Homo sapiens: one gene and its partner. The protein of the gene in region 1 interacts with the protein of each later gene in a pairwise test. Each region holds a gene or a part of one and is shown on either strand. Other genes may lie near its edges.

Region 1 (3,828 bases):
GGAGTTTGTTTTAATAGTATTACTAATATGGTGATAATTCATTGAGGTGGGAAAAGGCTTTAAACATAACAGAAGACCCAGAAGTTCCAAGGAAAAATCTGAAAAATTTCAGTACATAAAAATAAAAAGCTTTTTTATGGCAAAGCTTAAAAAAGAATCCTTAAATGACAAACTGAGATAAAATACTTCTATCATAAGTGATTCACGTTCCAGTAAGAGTTTTACCCTGCCAGGGAAGCTGAGGCAGGAGAATCGCTTGAACCAGGGAGTTGCAGGTTGCAGTGAGCCGAGATCGCTCCACTGCACTCCAGCCTGGGGATAGAGTGAGACTCTGTCTAAAAAAAAAAACAAAACAAAACAAGAAAAAACTTATACTCCCTTAGGAAAATGCCTAAGACAAGCAATTCACAATAAACAAAATGCAGATGTTCAATAAGCAAGAGAAAAAGTATTTAGCCCTTCCTGCAGTAGCTTGATTTTATGGGGGAAAAAAAAAAGTACCTAGCCTTGTTTATAATTAAATACTGTCAAGACCGCTTACGGTGGCTCACGCCTATAATCCCAGCACTTTGGGAGGCTGAGGCAGGCAGATTGCTTGAGGCCAGGAGTTTGACACCAGCTTGGCCAAATGGCACAACCCGTGTCTACCAAAAAATTAGCCGGGTGCAGTGACTCCTGCCCATAGTCCCAGCTACTGTGGAGGCTGAGGCACGAGAATCTCTCGAATCGGGGAGGTGGAGGTTGCAGTGAGCCAAGATCGCGCCACTGCACTCCAGCCTGGGCGATAGAGCGAGACTGTCTCAAAAAAAAAAAAAAAGTCAAAAAAAATTTATCAGATTGGTGAAGAGTTCAAAGTTTTATTAGTTTTGCAAAGGTATTTACCTTTTTGAAATAGGTAAATTTATACAATTTTGGAAGACTTTTTTTTTTTTTTGAGACGGAGTTTGCTCTTGTTGCCCAGGCCGGAGTGCAATGGCGTGATCTCGGCTCACCACAACTTCCACCTCCCAGGTTCGGGCGATTCTCCGGCCTCAGCCTCCCGAGTAGCTAGGATGATTACAGGCAAGCGCCACCACCCCCGGCAAATTTTTTTCTATTTTTAGTAGAGACAGGTTTTCTCCATGTTGGTCAGGCTGTTCTCCAACTCCCGACCTCAGGTGATCTGCCCACATCGTCCTCCCAGAGTGCTGGGATTACAGGCGTGAGCCACCGTGCCTGGCCCGGAAGACTCTTAATTTCAGTGTAAAACCATTTGGCAGTATCAACTGTCATTTACAACTGACTTCTCAGTGTTTTGTTTTGTTTTTGAGACAGTCTCACTCTGTCACCAAGGCTGGAGTGCAGTGGCGTGATCTCAGCACACTGCAACCTCCACCTCCCAGGTTCAAGCGATTCTCCTGCCTCAGCCTCCCAAGTAGCTGGGATGCCTGGCTCGTACAACTTTTGACTCACAATTTCAATTCTAGGGAATTGGCCTAGAGAGATAGTTTGCTTAAGGACTATGGGCAAGCATTACTGGAAATAACAAAGCAACAAACTTAATCTAAATATGTATTGATACAAATCTGTTCATTGTATTAGGTCTAGCCATGCAATAAAGTTCTTGAAAGAAATGAGATAGCTATTTTTGGTGCCGAAAAAGACTTCAGAAAACCTCTGAAGTGAAAAAACAAAGCCGAAGTAATTATCACTGGCAGAGGAATAGACAGAGATTTCTCAACAGTGGCAGTATTGACATTTTGGACAGGATAATTCTTTGTTTGCGGATGGGAGCTCTCCTGTGCACTGTAAGATTTTTAGCAGCATCACTATCCCCTGCCCATTAGATGCCAGTAGCACCTTGCACCCCCACACCCCAGTGTGACAGCCAAAACTGTCCCTGGATATTGCCAAATCATGGTTGAGAACCATTGGGATAGACAAATAGATTAGTACTTAGCCTTATTTATAATTACATAGCCCAGAAACAGACACCAATGTATATATAGAAATAATGTGTTTCAGAGATAGAATTGAAGTACATTGAGGTAAATATGGACTGTTGAATTAATGATCATTTTGTTACACCTTTGGAAATAAATTATACTAGATGTCTACCTTATGTCAATATATAGACAGTCACTTCTAGGTTGAGCAGTGTAGTGAGACCCTGTCTCTGCAAAAATAAATATTTAAAATAATAGCCATACTTGGTGGTGGGTGCCTGTAGTCCTATCTTACTCAGGAGGCTGGGGTGAGAAGATCGCTTGGGCCTAGGAGTTCAAGGCTGCAAGTGAGCTATGATTGCATAACTGCACTCCAGCCTGGCTGGGTGACAGAGCAAGACCCTGTCTCTTAAAAAAAAAAAATAGTCATTTCTAAGTGTATTCTTACCTAGATGTATATGTAAATATGAAATGCAGAACTTTAAATTTTTAGAAAAAAATATGGAATATTTTATTTTTCCAATCTTAGATTAAGGAAGAAATCCTTAAAAATATATAAAAGCAAATACATAATGAAGATTGATAAACCGAATGATATTGAGGTTAAAAACCTATGTTAATCAAAAGATCGCACCACTGCACTCCAGCCTGGGCAACAGAGCGAGACTCCATCACTAAAAAAAAAAAAAAAAAAAAAAGGAAGTCAAATCTTGGGTAAGGGGGAACTACTGTACTTACATTTACCCATTTATTATAAAGGCAATTACAAAGGACACAGATGAATTAACCCGATGGAAGGAGATGTACAAGGTGAGACAAAGAAGGAGAGAAGAGGAGAAGGGGCGTGGAGCTTCAGTGTTCAGCTATCTGAGAGCTCACAGAACTCAGTCCTTTTGGGCTTCTATGGAAGTTCATTAAATAGGCAAGATTGATTAGATCACTAGTCATTGGTTTATGGACTCAAGTTTCAGCTTCTTTCTTCCCAGAAGTGGCGGCTGGGGGTAGGAATCAAAGTTATAACCCTTAATCACTGGGCTGATTCCCCTGGCTACCTAGCCCCCATCCTGAAGCTATCTAGGGGCCCCCAGGCACCAGTCATCTGATTATTGTACAAAACAGTCATCACTCCAGAGATTCCAAGGATTTTAGAAGCTATGTCAGAAAATGGGACAAAGACCAAATATTAATATTTTTTTTATGATATCACAGATGGGAAAGACAAACTAGAAAAACTTGCTTTAACTCTTCATTTAACACCTCTCTGTAGGGTTTGGCTTTTTAAAATCCATGTTCATATATTTTTGATAAAAGCATACTTATTATAAGTTTAGTTTAAAAGCAAAAGTTTAATTTTGTGTTAATACTTAGAATACCAGGTTTTTTTTCAACCTAAAATGAGAATCCAATAGAAATGTTTTCTTTATAATTTATCAAGTATACCAACAGATTAACAACATTTCAAGACACTTTGTTGTAAACTTCATTGCGGAAGGCTCCCTTGGGAGTAAGGTAGTAGTAACATTTATTTCTGTGCTTTTCCATATTTATTCTGTCAGGTATTGAAATGTTTTTCCACAGGTTGCTTTTTGTTTTAGAGGTATTTCGGGTACTTGGAGAATTGTAAATATTATGTTTTGTACCCTGATTTTTAGTCATAAGTTTCCAAAAGAGGGTAAGGGTATGAATAGACTTTACACATAAAAGAGTGAAACACTTTGTTATGTAACATGTATAGTAAGTTTTTATTTTTTCTTTTGTTTTTATTTGCCTGTTTTTGGTAATCCAAATTGAAAAGGCCTGAACTCTTTCATGAGTTGAGTTCATATATAGTTTCAAAGTTCCTGAATTGATTTGGATACCTGCCTCTTTTTGGCTACCTTGAAAACTCTAGTGAACTCTCTTA
Region 2 (3,828 bases), on another chromosome or scaffold:
AGAAATGGAATCTTCACATTGAGGATGGGCACAACCTCCCTCCAGCGTTGTCCTGTTATGTTAAGTTGGAAAGATGTACAGGAGCTTGGCATATGCCCTAACACAGTTAAGTAATTTAGTGTTTGAAAAAATAATAGAGTTAAATAAGAAAAATAAAACTGTAGAATGACTAGAAGAAACTTAAAATGACTATTTGATTTTCTTTTGGGAAAGGATCATCTAAGATGAAAGACAACTGCAAAAGCCTCAAAGGACAAGATTAATAGATCTTAAATATAAATTTATTTTAAATCATAAAAATCTCTAAATCCCAGATGTGAAAAAACAGCATAAACAAAGTTGAAAATTAATGACAAATTAGAGGAAATATTTGCAACATCTAGGACAATGTGATAGCACTGTCAATTGTATCATACGAGTCACAAAATAAGAATCAACAAAGGTGGGAAATGTTTACTTCTCAAGTATTCAAAGAAGTGCTTATTAAAATAATAGCAAGACTCTTACCAAATTGGCAAAAAAATTTTCTTCAAAGTTTCAATGGCCAGAATTGGAAGGTGCTAAAATAAGAACTTTATATGTACTTTTTGGTAGGAGTACAAATACCACCGAAAGGCAATTTGGCTTTTTATATAAAGACTTAAAACTGTACATAGCCATCTTTTGCGGGGCGGGCGGGGGCGGGGGTTGAAAGCTAGTAAATAACCCTTCTCTCCCCTCAAGTTCATATGTAATTATAAAATAGATCAAAGTATTGAAAGGTGGAAGTAAAAACATCAGCTTCATTGCACATAAGACTGAAATGGAGAACGCACTTGATGAATGGCTTTAATCAGGCTCCACAAAAGTCCCCCTGATTTAAACTTAACTCCCAAACCGAAGGCCTGCCTAAGTTTCCTGCCTGGAGCAAAAGAGACTATACCCAGTATGGTCAGAAGGAGAGAGTGTTGAGCAAGTTCTGGGCCACATATGCTCAATTCTTTCCTTCATCTCCCTAATCAGATAAGTGACTTCTAGGAGGAGTGATGGGGGAAAAAAAAAGAGCAGTCACAAGTTTTCCTATACCTTCCCCCTCCTAGAGACTAAAGTTCCCTCTACTTTATGGAAGTGGGAGGGATGAGGACTAGGGGATAAGAGTACCTCCCCCCATTGAATTTAATCCAATAATTCTAACTATTTTAAACAAATAAAGGCACACGTATGTAATTAATTTTGTGTTATAGATACCAAAAATAGGTTTTAATTACAATAAAATAATGTACTTGGGAAAAAAACATAAAAAATCTAATGTAAAATATGAATGTTCCCCTGCCTACTAATTCTACTATTCAAGACCAATATTACCAGTTGGTCTATACAAATATACACACAAACACATATATGTATACACACCCATATGTGTGTGTTTATTAAATGGGAATATATTTTACATTTTATTGTTCAATGTATTTTTTCACTTAACAATGTATTTTCAACATATTTCTGGACACAAATATTTATTCAAAAAATATCTGAATACCTACTATATGCCACGCAGTGAAGATTCTAAGGATATAGCAATGATCTAGACCTAAAAGGTTCGTAGACCTTCCTCGTTCTGTTTAGAAGCAATACACGTAACTGTAGGATATTTCACTTAAAATTCCTGTGTTAATGGAGATTGAAGTTATTTCCATTTTTCCTATTTCTAACATTGCTGTTGGGAATAAACATCTTTTTTTTTTTTTTTTTTTTTTTTTTTTTTTTTTTTTTTTTTTGAGACAGCGTCTTGTTCTGTTGCCCAGGCTGGAGTGCAATGGCACAATCATGGCTCACTGCAGCCTCGACCTCCTGGGCTCAAGCAATCCTCCTACCTCAGACCTGAAGTAGCTGGGACTACAGGCACATGCTACCATGCCAAGCTAATTTTTTTATTTTCTGTAGAGACAGGTCTCACTATGTTGCCCAGGCTGGTGTCAAACTCCTGGACCCAAGCAATACTCCCCACTGACCACCCAAAGTACTGGGATAACAGGCATAAGCCACTGAGCCTGGTGGGAATAAACGTCTTTAAATATAACACACTCTTGCACACTTGTGCTAATATTTCTACAGAATAGTTTATAAACATGGTATTACGGGAATTTAGGGATATATGCATTTTATACCTGATTAGAAACTGTCACACTACTTCCTCAAAAGGTCATGATTATATCAGAGGAACAATGTCTGCCCATGCCTACTAAATATGTATGTTATATTTTGACATTTTATGAATATGTGATAAATAACAATACTTTTTGTTTTAATTTGCTTTTATTTTCTTAGTAGTGAGATTGATAATCTTTTTATGTTTATTTTTGTTGTTTATTCTGTCCAGTGTTTGTTTATAGCCTTTCTCCATTTTTTAATTGCTTTATGTTCTTTTTATATTGATTGACAAGTGTTCTTCATATGGTATACATATTCTGTTACATGCATTGCAAATATTTTCCCTCAGTTTGCAAAAGTCAGTGTCTTTGACCTCTGAGTATAATGTCCTGGGCCGTAGAGAAGTTTTAACAGGTTTTGCAGTTTAATGTGTCATATTTTCCATACAGTTACTGGGTTTTATCATGCTGAGAAACGTCTTCCTCACCAAGCCCATAAAAATTCTATTAGATTTCCTTCTTTTCCAGCATTTAAAATTTTTAGATTTTTGATCCTTCAGGAATTGGTTTTGTGTATAACTTTAAGTAGCAATCTAACTTACCTTTTATTTAAAAAAAGTTAATCTGTCCAGTGCATCGTTTTTTTATAATAATGAAAAATTAGATCCAACTAAAATATTGAACAATACAGAAATGGTTAAGTGTATTGTTGAACCATTTAAGATGATCTTTTGAAGACTGTTTAATAATGCAGAAAAAAGACATATAGTTTTAAAATTAAAAACCTAGGCCAGGCGCAGTGGTTCACAGCTGTAATCCCAGCATTTTGGGAGGCCAAAGTGGGCGGATGGTCAGGAGTTCAAGACCAGCTTGGCCAACATGGTGAAACCCCATCTCTGCTAAAAATACAAAAACTAGCCAGGTGTGGTGGCGCATGCCTGTAGTCCCAGCTACTGGGGAGGCTGAGGCAGGAGAATCGATTGAACCTGGGAGGTGAAGGTTGCAGTGAGCCGAGATCACACCACTGCATTCCAGCCTGGGCGACAGAGAGAGACTCTGTCTCAAAAAAAACACCATAAAATAAATAAAATCAAAAACCTAGAGGCAAAACTTCATGCATAATACCTCAACTGTATAGAAAAAATTCATACTTAGAAAAAAGGAAAATAAATTTGGCAAAATGTTGACAGTATTTTCTCTTTGCATTAGGATTTAAGGTGATTGCTAATTTTTTCCAGCCTTTTCATATTTTCCCCAATGAGAGTTCTTACTTTTAGAATCATAATAAAGTTCTTAAAAAGAAACATGATTATTATAAGAAACAAGGATAATAGGGACAAAGCCTCTAATGATAAAAATGTCATTTAGTTCTTACCATTTGGATGAAACGGAATTGTTATAAATTTCACAACTGGAGGAGCATAGTTGTACTCCGATGTAAAATGTATTGTCAGTTGGAAGACTAAACCTATAATATAGAAATAAACATTTTTACTAAAGTGTCATGTTTATTGATTAACTGTAACCTGATTAACACTGGAGTTTCTCCCTATGGTTTAGTCTTTCCACAGTTTTATTTTTAAGTAAATTGATTCATAGAGTGCACCGACTCCTCTGGATAGTATAACAGACACTTCACAATCTATTATAATCATACGTTTTCAGTCTCTTTCCCACTAGTCCTTTCCATCTACTACCT

Evidence for each region.
Region 2: the proteins of RNF139 (region 1) and UBE2U interact in a two-hybrid assay, tested with the Homo sapiens proteins (one large-scale study listed by BioGRID and IntAct).

What each region holds. Positions count from the first base shown.
Region 1 is NC_000008.11:124,477,804-124,481,631, forward strand, and holds part of RNF139 (E3 ubiquitin-protein ligase RNF139), read left to right. Parts: intron 1-3,828. UniProt on the Homo sapiens protein: E3-ubiquitin ligase; acts as a negative regulator of cell proliferation through mechanisms involving G2/M arrest and cell death.
Region 2 is NC_000001.11:64,206,533-64,210,360, reverse strand, and holds part of UBE2U (ubiquitin-conjugating enzyme E2 U), read right to left. Parts: intron 3,598-3,828; coding exon 3,505-3,597; intron 1-3,504. UniProt on the Homo sapiens protein: Catalyzes the covalent attachment of ubiquitin to other proteins.